4 linked regions of the Homo sapiens genome follow. The protein of the gene in region 2 purifies or fractionates together with the protein of the main gene of each other region. This does not show direct contact. Each region holds a gene or a part of one and is shown on either strand. Other genes may lie near its edges.

Region 1 (3,500 bases), on a different chromosome or scaffold from region 2:
GATTCTCCTGCCTCAGCCTCCAGAGTAGCTGGGATTACAGGCGTGCACCACCACGACCAGCTAATTTTTGTATTATTAGTAGAGACGGGATTTGACCATGTTGGCCAGGCTGGACTCTAACTCCTGACCTCAGGTGATCCACGTGCCTCAGCCTCCCAAAGCACTGGGATTACAGGAGTGAGCCACCGCGCCTGGCCGTGTGTGCGTGTGTGTGTGTGTGTTTTAATCCTATCTAATTTTTCCAACAGTTTTTTGCATCCTAAGAGAGTTTAGGAGTAGAATTATCAATAAGGAATTTCATACATAGACCTGGAGTTGCAAAAATATATTTGGAGAAGAGAGCTTTCCCATTGCCCTTCAAGTCATACCTCATATCTTTTAAAATTTTTTTCCTGGACAATCCCTACTGCATAACATACCTCATATCTTCTAACTCTTACTTTACCTGGGAGCAAATATTGCTTATTGGTATGAATTTTACTTCTGAGAAGGAGGCATAGGGTAGAAGAAGCAAGCGTATAGTTTGCTCCCTAATCCTAAAGCATTTCAGATTGGAAGGTAACCAAAGTGTGAGACAATGAACTTATAATAAGGAAATGCAGCAGCCCTCTTGGAGGAAGGATACCATAAAACCCTACATGGTATACTCCCACTTCCGTTTTGGGAAAGATTTAGCCATTGACTCAACAGTAACTGAACTGAATAAGGAGCTACCCAGGTGAACAAAGTATGTGTACATTTCTGGGCAAGGTTGTAGCTTCTGTTCAGGGACAGTGGGTACCTTTTCAGAGTGTCTCCTGGTTCTGTGGTGTTATGGCTCCTTTTTTTAAACTTGTGTTTCTCAAGTCAGGAATTAATAGATAGTGGCCCAAAGCTTTTGACCGTTCAACATCAACTGAAAATTCAGCGAACTTTGTTTTTAGCTATAGTTGCCTCAGTGTTTGGGTGGGAGGGCCACATATTGGGTGTGATTAGGCCATCTGAGGCATAGTAACGGGTGACAGGAAAAGCAGTTAGCCCATGCGAGTTGCAATAGTACCTTGTGGGCAAGATCCCAAGGGGGCCCTCCATCCAAGGGAGATCACAGAGGAGCCAGGGAGAGAATTGATTCTGAGGCCTATTAAAAATATTCCCAAATGGGGCCGTGTGCGGTGGCATGCGCCTGTAATCCCAGCACTTTGGGAGGCTGAGGCGGGTGGATCACGAGGTCAGGAGATTGAGACCATCCTGGCTAACACGGTGAAACCCCGTCTCTACTAAACAAAATACAAAAAATTAGCTGGGCGTGGTGGTGGGCGCCTGTAGTCCCCCAGCTTCTCGGGAGGCTGAAGCAGGAGAATGGCGTGAACCTGGGAGGCAGAGCTTGCAGTGAGCCGAGATCGCGTCACTGCACTCCAGCCTGGGCGACTGAGCAAGACTCCGTCTCAGGAAAAAAAAAAAAGAACCCAAATGGAATTGAGTAAGATCTGTCCAGATGGTACAGAAAGGGAGGAGTTGATTGGGGGAGAGAAGTAGAATTACTTAGCCTTAATTTAGGGAGCATTTAATGAGCACCTACTAGGGATCAGGCAGCATGCTGTGCTCTGAAGATTTTAAGATAAACTCCCACTTTTAAAGAAGTTCATAGTTTAGCAGAGCAGACAGACACAATTTATATACTGTGATAATGTGATACATACTATTATAGAAATACAGTCTTTTTTTTTTTTTTTTGAGACGGATTCTTGCTTTGCTGTCCAGGCTGGAGTACAGTGGTGCAATCTGTGCTCACTGCAACCTCCGCCTCCCGGGCTCAAGCAATTCTCATGTCTCAGCCTCCTGGGTAACTGGGATTACAAGCCTGTGCCAACATGCCCAGCTAATTTTTGTATTTTTAGTAGAGACGGGGTTTCACCATATTGGCCAGGCTGGTCTCGAACTCCTAACCTCCAGTGATCCATCTGCCTTGGCCTCTCAAAGTGCTGGGATTACAGGTGTGCGCCACCACACCTGGCCAGAAATACAGTCTTAATACTGTGGGACCCTACGGGCCTCTAGAGAATGATTAATTCTGTGGGGGAGAGGGTGATTATGTAATTTCACTGAAGTAACATTTGAGCTTGGTCTTATGAGATATATAGAATTTTGCTAGGCAGACAAGTAGGGACGGGCATTCCAATCTTACCTAGGTCAATAATAGGGAGTTTGTACTACCATACTGATAAGAGGTAAGTATGCTTTTTGCCTCTTGGAGAAATATAAGGGAAAGGGTGCGAGATGTGGAAGGAATCTCATTTAATCCAATGACTCATTAGGTAACACTGGATCAACAAAATGAAGAGCTGAGCCAAGTGGTAGAACTCTCATTTCAAGATTTTGGTGACTTGGGTTTAAACAGAGTTGGAGAGGGAGATGAAGGTATTTACTGGTTTCTGCTCTATCTTCCCTACTTAGTAAAACTCTCACATTAATCGCAGGGCCCACCAAATTCTGCAAAAGTTACCGCTTGTTTTCCTATTGCCTCTCATTGAATTGCTTCTATTTCAACTGTCCTGGCAGGGTTTGGTCATAGACCTTCTAGAAAAGAGTAGTGATGAATTAATTCTTCTGTCAGAAAGATATGGGACTGCATCCCAGTTGCCAAGGAAGGCCTGGGTCTTCTTAATTTGTTTTTAGTCCCAAAGCAAGTACTTACCTAAACTGAATAGAGGCAGGAACTCTATCCAGTCTAAGCTCTCGATCCTGTCCTGGTGTTCTCTTTAGAGTTCAGCATTTCCTGCTTCCTTAAGAAGTATAGTGGTATAAGAGGCAGGAGTACCTGACTAGGAGTCCTACATTTACTGCTTAGCAGTTGGCTGTATGGTAACACTTGACAAGTTGACTAATTTTATTTTATTTTTTATTTATTTATTTATTTTTTGTGCAAATGGTGGCCTTTAATACCAAGAAAGACCATGACAAGTGACAGAACAGGAGCAAATTCCCTAGTGTAGTGCCGAGCTAGCCCTTTGCAGGACCCTAAAACCTGATCTAGTAACAGAATAAATCAGTGTATTTACATTTATGTTTGCCCTGAAAACCCAGGTAAGGTCTGAAGCCTGAGGCATCTCTCCTTCCTTTCCTCCTCCCTCTCTTCCTACCTCCTTGCCTTCGTTCACTTCCTCAATTCATTCCTCTCCCTTCTCCCTTCCTCTCTTTTCCTTCTTTTCCTTTCTGCTTTTCCCTTTTCTCCTTTTTCTCCTCATTCTCTTTACCATCTACCTATGTGTCCCTCCAAGCCCCTCTGCTATTTCTCCCCTGCTCACTCCCTCTGCTGTTGTCTCCCTCAGGTTCAGCTTCCGGGGTGGGGAGGCAAGAAAGGGTCCTCAGCTCAGGGAGCACTTGTTGGTGTTCTTTATGTCACAAGTTTTCAGGTCAGTACTGGGAGGCTTGTTGCCGTTTCCTGATCTCCGGCCTCCTGACTTGAGCAAGATGTCCCGGGCCAGGGAACTAAAAGCCTCATCCACATTCATACTGGATTT
Region 2 (3,500 bases):
CTTGCATTGGTGGCCTTATATATCATTTAATCTGATTAATAGGAGCCAATTCAGTTGCCCTTTTTTCTATTGTTCATTTTCCTCAACTGTTCCCATTGCCTCTGTTCTTCACTCATTTAGGCATAGAGGTCATCTTAATTTCATTTTCCAGATTACCTAAAGATTGTGACTACTTTTACTAAGAGAAGTTTTCCTCTCCTAATGGACCCAACATTCCCACTGAGAGTTTCTGGAACCCAAAGACCAAATGGACCAAATATCCTCATAATATTTTCTGTAACTATGATCTTCAGTAAATTCCTGTACTTTGGAAGTGTGTTTGAATTAGGTTTCTCTCATAGTAGAGAAGTAGGAGTTAGCATATAAATGTTAAAGTATTTTATACTTCTGACAGTCTATTCACATATTGATATTTTTTATTTAGGAACATGCATTGGCCCAAGCTGAACTTCTTAAGCGCCAGGAAGAACTAGAAAGAAAAGCCGCAGAATTAGATCGTCGGGAACGAGAAATGCAAAACCTCAGTCAACATGGTAGTATCCAAAGAAATTTGAAATAAAAATAACTTTTAAATACTTTACATTATGTCTATACTAGCTCCTAGGTCATTTGGCCTGTGGATAAAACCCTACCCTGTTTTCCTGTTCTAACAAGGAGATCAGACACAGCAGATTGCCTGTTTGATACTCTGTAGCCTTCTAATCTTGGCTGATTTGCATAGTCTTTTGTTGATAGCTTAGAACAGTGTTAGCCTCATCACACAGAAAATGAATGTGAATATGATAATTTTTGCTTACTCTGAGGCCAGGAGCCTTTGATTCTGCAGTTAGGCCCTCCTTGGTTCTGTGGACTCTTTATGAGTACATTTGCATGTACCCTACATTTGACTTTTACCTGATTTATTCAGGTTAATTTCAGATTATCTGCCCCAGTCCTCGCAAGTATTTTGTCAAATCATGTTAGAAAAATTGGAAGCCTAAGGTATTCATATGATGCCAAAGAAATAAGTGGTGAATTGTTGCAGTGAATTCTATTAAGTTTGTGCCTGCCAAAGCACTTCAAAGGAGTCTCTTAGGGAAAGCTAGCAGTCTCTGAGTAAGAAGAGATAAAAGAGCTAGATAAGTCATTGTTAGGATGTCTGGGATAGTGATGCAATGCAAAGCTAGAACAATAACAATATACAGAACTATTTCTTTTTAACTTAGAATGTGTAAGTCTAGGGCCTCATGAGAACACATTTATCCTGGGTCATTTTCTTGCTTGCAGCATCAGAGGTAGCATCTATAGAAGGAGAAACTAAAAGTTGAACTGGGACCAATGTTTCTGAAGTACCTGTAACTAAAATCCATCCTATTTCTTTAGCACTGGCAAATACAAACTATTTCTATGAGAGTTATGTTAGTAAAGACAGTAACAAAGAGTAGGAAATTAACAATTAGACTGCAGTATGTTAGCACATTTTAGTACTTTTCCCCTCTTAACTCATACTTAAATCATCAATACAATCCTGTGAGGGGTGATAGAGTTTTTATTCTCATTTTACAGATATGGAAACTAAGGCTCGGAGGAGAGAGTAAGTTGCCCAAGGCGACCTTGCCAGTAAGTGGCTAGCCACTTCTGGTTCCAGAGCCTCTCTTCTTTACGAGTATTCACTGCCGCTTCTCAAATAGTATGAGATTGGTATGAGAAATGAACTATATGAAATTTGAATAGTATGATAAATGGAACACAGGAGACTCATTGGGGAGAATCAGAAATAGGTTATTGTTCTTTCTATAAAAATTACCCTGGTCTGGGAAAAGTAGGTAAAATTGAATTTTTAAAAACTGTGGGATATAACATCTAAAATCGGGAAATGGCCTTAGGTGCTGTTTTTACCCGCTATTTTCATGTTTTGACTTCTTTATTTTAATTTTTTATTTCCCCCACCATTTCTCAAGTCTTATTTTTAATCTGGTTTCTTTATGTAGACACATTTTTTTCCCTTTACAGTTTGAATTTGTTTTTCTCTGCATTTTTAAAGGTTCTATAATTCTTCAGCTTCCTTATCATGACTGTTTCATGTTTTCTTTGTTGTAGGGTTTTCGTACATGTATCTTTTGGATATTATTTTTTCCCAGATTTTGAGTATTCTAAATTTGATTCTTTGGTATTGGTTTAATCTTGGACTTAACAGAAAACTTGAAAAAATTAGAAGCTAGTCTTTCTCCACTTGAGATAGGAATTATAACAGAATTATATTTGAAGATTTAAGATGCTGAGGAGAAAATTGAAGTTTAAAAACTGGATGGCCCTTTCATGCCAGCCAGACTCTTTGGACTGTGAAATAAATCTGTTTTAGGGTAGAAGCACTGGATATGTGCTTTCTTTTTGTTTCTTGTTTTTTCTGTACATAAATGGTTCCTGCTAAACATGGTATGATATGACACTGGAAAATTATTTTACTATCTAATGTGCTCTAAGGTGATGATATTCTGAGAAAATTTTTTAAAAATCTAAAGCTTGTCTTTCAGAGTTCTAGGAATACAAAGATATAGTTCTACAGTTTTTCTGAACTTTTGTTAACATAATAGAGTTTTTCTTTATTATGAAACAAAAAATAATATCACATTTGTTATAATATAAATAACCTTTTCTTTTTCTAAAAAAAATTTACAGGTAGAAAAAATAATTGGCCACCTCTTCCTAGCAATTTTCCTGTCGGACCTTGTTTCTATCAGGATTTTTCTGTAGACATTCCTGTAGAATTCCAAAAGACAGTAAAGCTTATGTACTACTTGTGGATGTGTGAGTATACAACAATTTACATCTTTGCTTAGAATTTGTATTTTTGTTGTCAAAATCCGCATTTTTATTTCAAGGATAGTATAGCAAACCAGTCTTCTTTTTCTATAGATAAAGCTTAATAATCATGATTTCAGAGTGAAACATATCCTATTTAGGTACTTCAGAATTGTACTATATGTGACAATGTAAGTCCTTGGCTGAGAAAAACTTGTATGTTGAGAACTGGCATTCTTTTGAGGAAAAGACAACTTCTCTGTCATGTGGGTAAAATTTTATAAGATTCTTTTTCCTTGAAAGATGTTATCTAGACATGATTTGCTTGGAAAAAATAGTGCATACTAATTTTATGCAGAGGAAGGCCATTTAAAAGAATTCTGTTAAATGTAGGCGTTTTAGCTATTTTTAAAAGGGCATAAAATTATTACATAAACTAAGTGTTCTTTTTATAGCTTTGAGTACAGTTTACTTTTTGTTTTCAATTGCGATACTTTTATTATTGAAAGTGCTTAATTAATACAGGACATTTTGTTGAACGGAACATTAGAATATACGTTTGGGGCTCTGATGCTTACATCACTTTGAGTATAATAACTCATGGAATACTGAAACAAAATGTCAAGCCGTTAACAGTTTTACTCTGTGTGCACAGACCTCCCACTTACTCTCTGTTTCATTTTTATTCCAAACAGTAGTCTCAGCCTCATTTTGATACC
Region 3 (3,500 bases), on a different chromosome or scaffold from region 2:
ACACACTTCTTCCTTTTATATCTTAACAGTCAGTGGCCACACCTAGCTACAAGGGAAATAAGAAATGTAGTCTTTACCTAAGTGTCTATGTGCCCAGCTGATATTCAGGTTTTCTTTTATGGAGGAAGACAGGAAAAATGGATATTTGGGGAGAGCGAAGCCTTTTTGCTACAGAGTCATTTCTGCTACAGAGTCATTAAAGGACCATGTCGTTATTAGATATATACTTTGAAAGGACCTTTATGCAGTGGGGAAAACAAATGGGGGATAGAATGACTATAGGGACAAGTTTTGGAAGTTATTGCAGTGGTTCTCAACTGGAGGTGGAATTGCTCCTTCCACTAGACCATTTGAAAATGTGTAGAGGTGGCCCGGCGCTGCGGCTCACGCCTTTAATCCCAGCACTTTGGGAGGCTGAGGCGGGTGGATCACTTTGACCTCAGGAGTTTGAGACCAGCCTGGTGAGACCTAGTCTCTTCAAAAAAATGCAAAAATTAGCTGGGTGTGGTAGCTCACTCCTGTAATCCCAGCTATTTGGGAGGCTGAGGCTGGAGAATCGCTTGAACCTGGGAGATAGAGGTTGCAGTGAGCTGAGATTGCATCTCTGCACTCTAGCCTAGATGACAAGAGTGAGACCCTGTCTCAAAAAAAAAAAAAAAAAAAAAGAAAATGTGTGGAGGCATTTTTGGTTGTCATAATGACTGGGCGGAGGAGCAGGAATACTAAATGTTCTAATATGTGCACCTAGGTAGTCCCACTTTACAAAGAATTATCCTGCCCAAAATGTTAATAGCACCCTTATTGAGAAGCACTGGACTAGGTTGTGGTGGAGGTGAAGAGAAGTAGACAAAGTCATGAGACACTTGATAGATTGGCTAGGGAGGTGAGGGAGATGGAGATATCATTGAAATCTCCAGTTTTCTGGCCGTTCTAGCTGGATAGGGGAGCCAATTCCTGACACAGAAAACCCTAGAAGAGGACTTGATTTGTCAGCCTTGGAATAATTTTGAGTTCTGATTTGAATATGCCTTTGACTCATTTAAGAAATGTCAAGTTGATAGGTAGATGATATATGAGAGCTCAGAACAGAGGTAGGGACTAGAACTATTAATTGGAGTTGTGTGCAATATTGATGGATATGGATGAGGTTGACTAGGGGAGAGTATGAAATAAGTCAGTCAGTGGGCTAGGCCCAAGGAGCTCCAAATTTAATGGCCAAGTAGAAGAGATACACAGGAAGAAAACCAGGGGAGGGCTGAGTTATAGAAGCCAAGGGAAAGGAGTATTTAAGAAGGAGGCAGGCTGGGTGTGGTAGCTCATGCCTGTAATCCCAGCACTTTGGGAGGCTGAGGTGGGCAGATCACCTGAGGTCAGGAGTTTGAGACCAGCCTGGCCAACATAACAAAACCCTGTCTCTACTAAAAATACAAAAATTAGCCGGGCGTGGTGGCAGACACTTGTAATCCCAGCTGCTTGGGAGGCCGAGGCAGGAGAATCACTTGAATCTGGGAGGCAGAGGTTGCAGTGAGCTGAGATTGCGCCATTACACTCCAGCCTTGGCGAAGAGTGAAAGTCTATCTCAAAAAAAAAAAAAGGAGGCCGTGCTTAGCAGTGTGAATAATTTTTTTTTTTTGAGATGGAGTTTTGCTCTTGTCACCCAGGCTGGCATGCAGTGGCGCCATCTCGGCTCACTGCAACCTCCGCCTCCTAGGTTCAAGCAATTCTCCTGCCTCAGCCTCCCAAGTAGCTGGGATTACAGGCATGCATCACCATGCCTGGCTAATTTTGTATTTTTAGTAGAGACAGGGTTTCTTCATGTTGGTCAGGCTGGTCTTGAACTCCCGACCTCAGGTGATCTGCCCACCTTGGCCTTCCAAAGTGCTGGGATTACAGGTGTGAGACACTGGGCCTGGCCTGAATGAGAAATGTTTAATACAAGCAACAGAGCCTGAAGTCAAGATTTATCACTTAACACAGGGTAGTAGTAATAGAGGAACAGTAGAACTTAGCACCCCTGGCTTCTATGCCATTATAGTAAATTCATTATATTAGGATGCCTAATAGGAAGTATATAAGGCAAAATGTTCTGTAGCCAAGTGCTTTTGAAAAAAAAAAAAATAAGAAAGGCTGATGACAGAACTTCTACCCTAGAAGCTAATTTCTCTTTAAAGTACTGTCATCTAAACACTCCATCCTTGGCAACATAGATACTGTCACTTAAAAAAACAAAAACATAGCCTGGGCAAAAGAACGAGATCCTGCTTCTACAAAAAGTAAACAAAAATTGAGCCGGGCATGGTGGCTCATGCCTGTAATCCCACACTTTGAGAAGCCAAGGCGGGCAGAATGCCTGAGCTCAGGAGTTCGAGACCATCCTGGCCAACATGGTGAAACCCCATCTCTACTCAAATACAAAAGATTAGCCAGCCATGGTGGCACGTGCCTGTAGTCCCAGCTGCTCAGGAGGCTGAAGCATGAGAATTGCTTGAGCCCTGGAGGTGGAGGTTGCAGCGAGCTGAGATCGCGTAAACAAAAATTAGTGGAGTATGGTGGCACAGCAGTCCTAGCTACTCGGGAGACTGAGGCAAGAGGAATCCCTGAACCCAGGAGTTTCAGGCTGCATTGAACCACTGCACTCCAGCTTAGGCTTCAGAGCAAGAACCTGTCTCTAAAAAAGAAGGAAAAACCTTTTTGCTCTTCCTGTCTCATGGTGTAGCTGTCTCCCCACATAGGAAGCTGGAACGTCATAGGGGATTCTCTGTCTTCCCATTATGGACAGTCTCACCCCTTGCCAGGACCCCATCACCACAGGAGGATAATGGGCAGTTACTGATATAAGAGGCTGAGATTTCTAATTTTATTCAAATCTTAGATCATATATTGATGAGTTGTAATGGGGTAACATAGTTAACAGTTTAGAAATCTGTTGACTATGTGCTTATCAGAGCTGGAGCCCTAATATGTTTAGTCATTGTTTTAAAAATGTTTTTGCATTGATTGCTGTTTTTAGTGAATGCCAAATATATTGTCTTTAATTTTATTTTCTTAGGAAAATTAAGCGTTGTAAAAACAAAAGTACATTTAAGTTTACTAGTTGTTATCAAGGCTAAAGGCTTTATTTTATTGTCTTTGGTAATAGTTGTTGATACCAAACAATGAGTACTTCCACTTTGTTGTTTAGTGATCATATTAAAGTATTGATATTTTAAAAATGTCTGGTACATGTTTCCAATAAATATAGGAAATCATTAAAAATGATGGGTTTTATGAGAATGTTATATATTGATTATTGTTGAGATGCTGAGTACTGTGTACATTGAGTTCATTATACTCTTTTTTATGCCTTTGAAATTTTCATAATAAAACTTTTAAAAGTGGGTTTTGAGAAACCATAACATTTAGTAAAGCAAGGGTTCTTATATTTTCAAATGTCTACCAGTTTCTTTTAAATGTCTCCATTCTAAAGAAACTGTCTACCAATGGTGGGTATATTATTTTTC
Region 4 (3,500 bases), on a different chromosome or scaffold from region 2:
TGATTGTCTTATTAGGAGAAATTTGCTGCATGTATCATTTGTTAAATAACAGATTTGAAATACTTAAAATGGAATTCTTTCTACTCTTTCTTGGGTGATAGAAGGGACCAATGTGTTGTAACTGATATGCTAAATATAGTTGAAAGTGTTTCTGTATAGTTGAAATTATTTCTTTGACATTTTTGTGCTGCTTACCACAGAGGTTTGATGTAACATTTTATGAAGTGCCCAGAAGTCTGTGTCCTTGTACTGGAGAATGGTGGGTTTAGGTTTTAAGTGGCCTCATTATAAGGAAAGGACTAATAAATTTGTTAATTGGCTTAGACATATATAACTTGTCATTGTATAATAAGTAGTATATGTTAGCCAGGTGTGGTGGCTCATGCCTGTAATCCCAGTAGTGCTTTGGGAGACTTACGTGGGAGGCTTGCTTGAACCCAGAAGTTCGAGGTTACAGTGAGCTATGCTTGTGCTACTGCACTCCAACATGGGTGACAGAGCAAGACCCTGTCTCTAAAATATATGCATATATATATAAAACATGCTGATTTTCTTTGAGACACTGATATTTTCTGGGATAAGAATCTGTTTGACTAACAACTCCTAGGGTACCAAGACCATTGATTGATCTGTTATAGATAATGATTGTAAGAAGGCTAAATGGTATAATGTTGATATTGTGAAGAATTAATTAAAATCCTTATTTTTACTTAGCAGATTATTTTAGTCGAGGGGTCAGCAAACGGTGGCCAGTGGGGCAAATCCAGTCACTGCCTGTTTTTGTGAATAAAATTTATTGGAATACAACCATGCCTGTTTTACATATTGTCTCTGGCTGCTTTTATGCCTCAGTGGCAGAGTTGAGTAGTTTGTGACAAAGACCTTTTGACCTGCAAAACTTAAAATATTTTCTGCTTGGTCCTTTCTAGAAGTTTGCTGACCCCGATTCTAGTACAGTCACATTTCCCTGACTTCTTACTTCTGGGTGTTTGTTAATTTTTTTTTTAGCGGTAGCTTTAGTCTATTTATAGCCTGTAAGTATTAGTAAGCCATTTGCTTATTTAGTGGATTTTCCCCCTCTAGGCTTAATTTGAAGTTTTCTGAAAATTGGGCTATTACTTTTTTTCCTCCTTAACAGTTATGGCTGATTGTCCTCACACAATTGGTGTTGAATTTGGTACAAGAATAATCGAAGTTAGTGGCCAAAAAATAAAACTGCAGATTTGGGATACGGCAGGACAGGAGCGATTTAGGGCTGTTACACGGAGCTACTACAGAGGAGCTGCGGGAGCTCTTATGGTCTATGATATCACTAGGTAAGAGATAATTTTTCAACCTTCATATGGGGAAAATAAATCTACTTTGGGCATTTAAAAAAAAATTGATAGGCATTTTTTTTAGTTTGTAATTGTATGACTGTGAATGAACTTACTTGTTTTTTATGGTTTCTTAAGTTGCCATGTAAAACTTGATATAACACATTGATATTTTCCAAAAGTTTTTATGACTGAAGAAAAATTTAGGGAGTTAGTTATTGGGTGAAGCTAATAGAAGAATACAGTTCTGAAAAGCAGCTTCAGTTGAATGATTTGAGGAGAAATAATATTTTATATAAAATGTTCTTTTAAGTAGAAAGCAAGCAACTCACTCTTGGGACTTACTCTATTTAGTCTCTAGTGTTAAAGTTTACACCTCTCAAAAGAAGGCCAAGCAAAGAGTTTTGCTAGTCCAGCATGGTAGATTATAAAAAACTTTATGCTTGCATCTGAAGGTGTTTGAGTATTTATTTACTAATTTTTTTTTCTCTTAAAATGGATAGAAATGACTTCAAATACTACATGCAGTAGGTTTAAATTTATTTCAACATGACTGTTTCTGGAATTCCAAAGCACTTGATGTAAAGTAATAAAACTACTGTACATAAAGGTTTGACTTTGGAGAACATGGAAAACTGTGCCACTTGATTAGACCCTGCACTGTTTGTCTACTGTAAGCTAGAAAATGAACTGGATCACCTTTCATGTTGATGTAAAGTGCCAGTCAAAAGCAATGTGACTCTGTTTCTTGGGGGTAAAGATGGGCGAGTGGGACCAAGTGATAATTAGAGTTTAAAGCATATTTCCTTTCGGAAAATGCCTTAAAAGGTTTCCTCTTGATGTGTCATAATGTGCGTTAGCATATTAAGACTCTGGGAAGTTCTGCAGTAAGAAATTCTTTGCTGTATGACTTTATTTAATTTGGTGTTTCCTAAGCTTATTTTATTGAGGAACACACTTTGGGAAATGCTGCCTTAGAATAAAGATATTGACTAATTATAATTATAGTGCCTAAAGTTTTCAGTAAATTCTAGAATTGGGTGGCCTCAAAGGGAAACAAGCCTTAATGCCCTTCATTATAGCCAGGCAATCTGTGATATGATCAAGAGTATTATGGGAAGACTGTTAATAAACCTGGCCGCCTACGCAGAACTGTCTGATTTTATAAGGAATGCATTTCTGAAGACTTCACATAATTAAAAACTCAATAAAATTTAAGTATGGTGATGTGTGCTAAGAATATTGTTTTTGCTTTTAAGCATATCTTTTAAGCATAGTTAATACTTTTGGTAAAATCTGTGTCTATTCAAGTCATCAAAAAAAGTACTTCAGCTGGGAACAACCAGAACATGCATCAACTGATGAATGGATAAACACTGTGATATATCCATACAATGAAATGTTACTCAGCTATAAGGAAGAAGGAAATACTGATACAGGCCACAACATAGATGAAACTTGAAAACATTATGCTAAGTGGAAGAAACCAGACACTAAGAGACACATACTGTATGATTTCATTTATGAAATATCGAGAATTTATATTCTGGTAAATTTATAGAGAAAGAAAGTGGATTGCCAGAGGATGGGAGTGAGTGACTTCTAAGTGAGTTCAGAGTTTCTCTCTGGGGTGATGAAAATGTTCTAGAATTAGATAGTGGTGATCAGTGCACAGGTTTGTAACTATCCTTAAAACAACTAAATTACGTACTTTAAAAGAATAAGCTTTATGATATGTTCATTATATTGTAATAAAAACTGTTACTGGAAAAGAGTACCCGAGGCTTTAGTCAGGCGCTAAAGTGATACTTTATAGTGACTTTGGTGTTGCAGTCATGACAGCAATTTTTTTCTGTTATTCTTTGACATTTTACAAACGTAAAAGTCCCTTTTTATTTTTGTCATTAACTCTCATTGTTACAGGGTGCTTTTCTAAATTGACAGCGTAGCTTGTCGTGACAGTTGTTTTGCCATAACATTTTGACATATCTAGTATTTTAGCACTTTTTTTTTAGTACTAGTACCACCAATTAATATTTGAATAATATTTATTTATAGATTTAAAATTATAATTATAGTGAATATTAAATTAATAACAATTACCAGAATCATTGGCAGAAGTTATAGTACATGTAAGTAATATGGTTTATATGATTTTGGTACTAGGCTTTTCTGTGTACTTCA

Evidence for each region. The genes of interacting proteins can lie anywhere in the genome.
Region 1: the proteins of SCAMP1 (region 2) and RAB5B purify together in Homo sapiens (affinity purification with mass spectrometry; one large-scale study listed by BioGRID and IntAct). This does not show direct contact.
Region 3: the proteins of SCAMP1 (region 2) and TAF5 fractionate together in Homo sapiens (co-fractionation; one large-scale study listed by BioGRID). This does not show direct contact.
Region 4: the proteins of SCAMP1 (region 2) and RAB14 purify together in Homo sapiens (affinity purification with mass spectrometry; one large-scale study listed by BioGRID and IntAct). This does not show direct contact.

Annotation. Positions count from the first base shown.
Region 1 is NC_000012.12:55,977,078-55,980,577, forward strand, and holds part of RAB5B (ras-related protein Rab-5B), read left to right. Parts: intron 1-2,294; coding exon of another isoform or gene 2,295-2,397; intron 2,398-3,500. UniProt on the Homo sapiens protein: The small GTPases Rab are key regulators of intracellular membrane trafficking, from the formation of transport vesicles to their fusion with membranes.
Region 2 is NC_000005.10:78,416,117-78,419,616, forward strand, and holds part of SCAMP1 (secretory carrier-associated membrane protein 1), read left to right. Parts: intron 1-424; coding exon 425-533; intron 534-2,658; coding exon 2,659-2,787; intron 2,788-3,500. UniProt on the Homo sapiens protein: Functions in post-Golgi recycling pathways. Acts as a recycling carrier to the cell surface.
Region 3 is NC_000010.11:103,374,476-103,377,975, forward strand, and holds part of TAF5 (transcription initiation factor TFIID subunit 5), read left to right. Parts: intron 1-3,500. UniProt on the Homo sapiens protein: The TFIID basal transcription factor complex plays a major role in the initiation of RNA polymerase II (Pol II)-dependent transcription.
Region 4 is NC_000009.12:121,188,370-121,191,869, reverse strand, and holds part of RAB14 (ras-related protein Rab-14), read left to right. Parts: intron 1-1,138; coding exon 1,139-1,316; intron 1,317-3,500.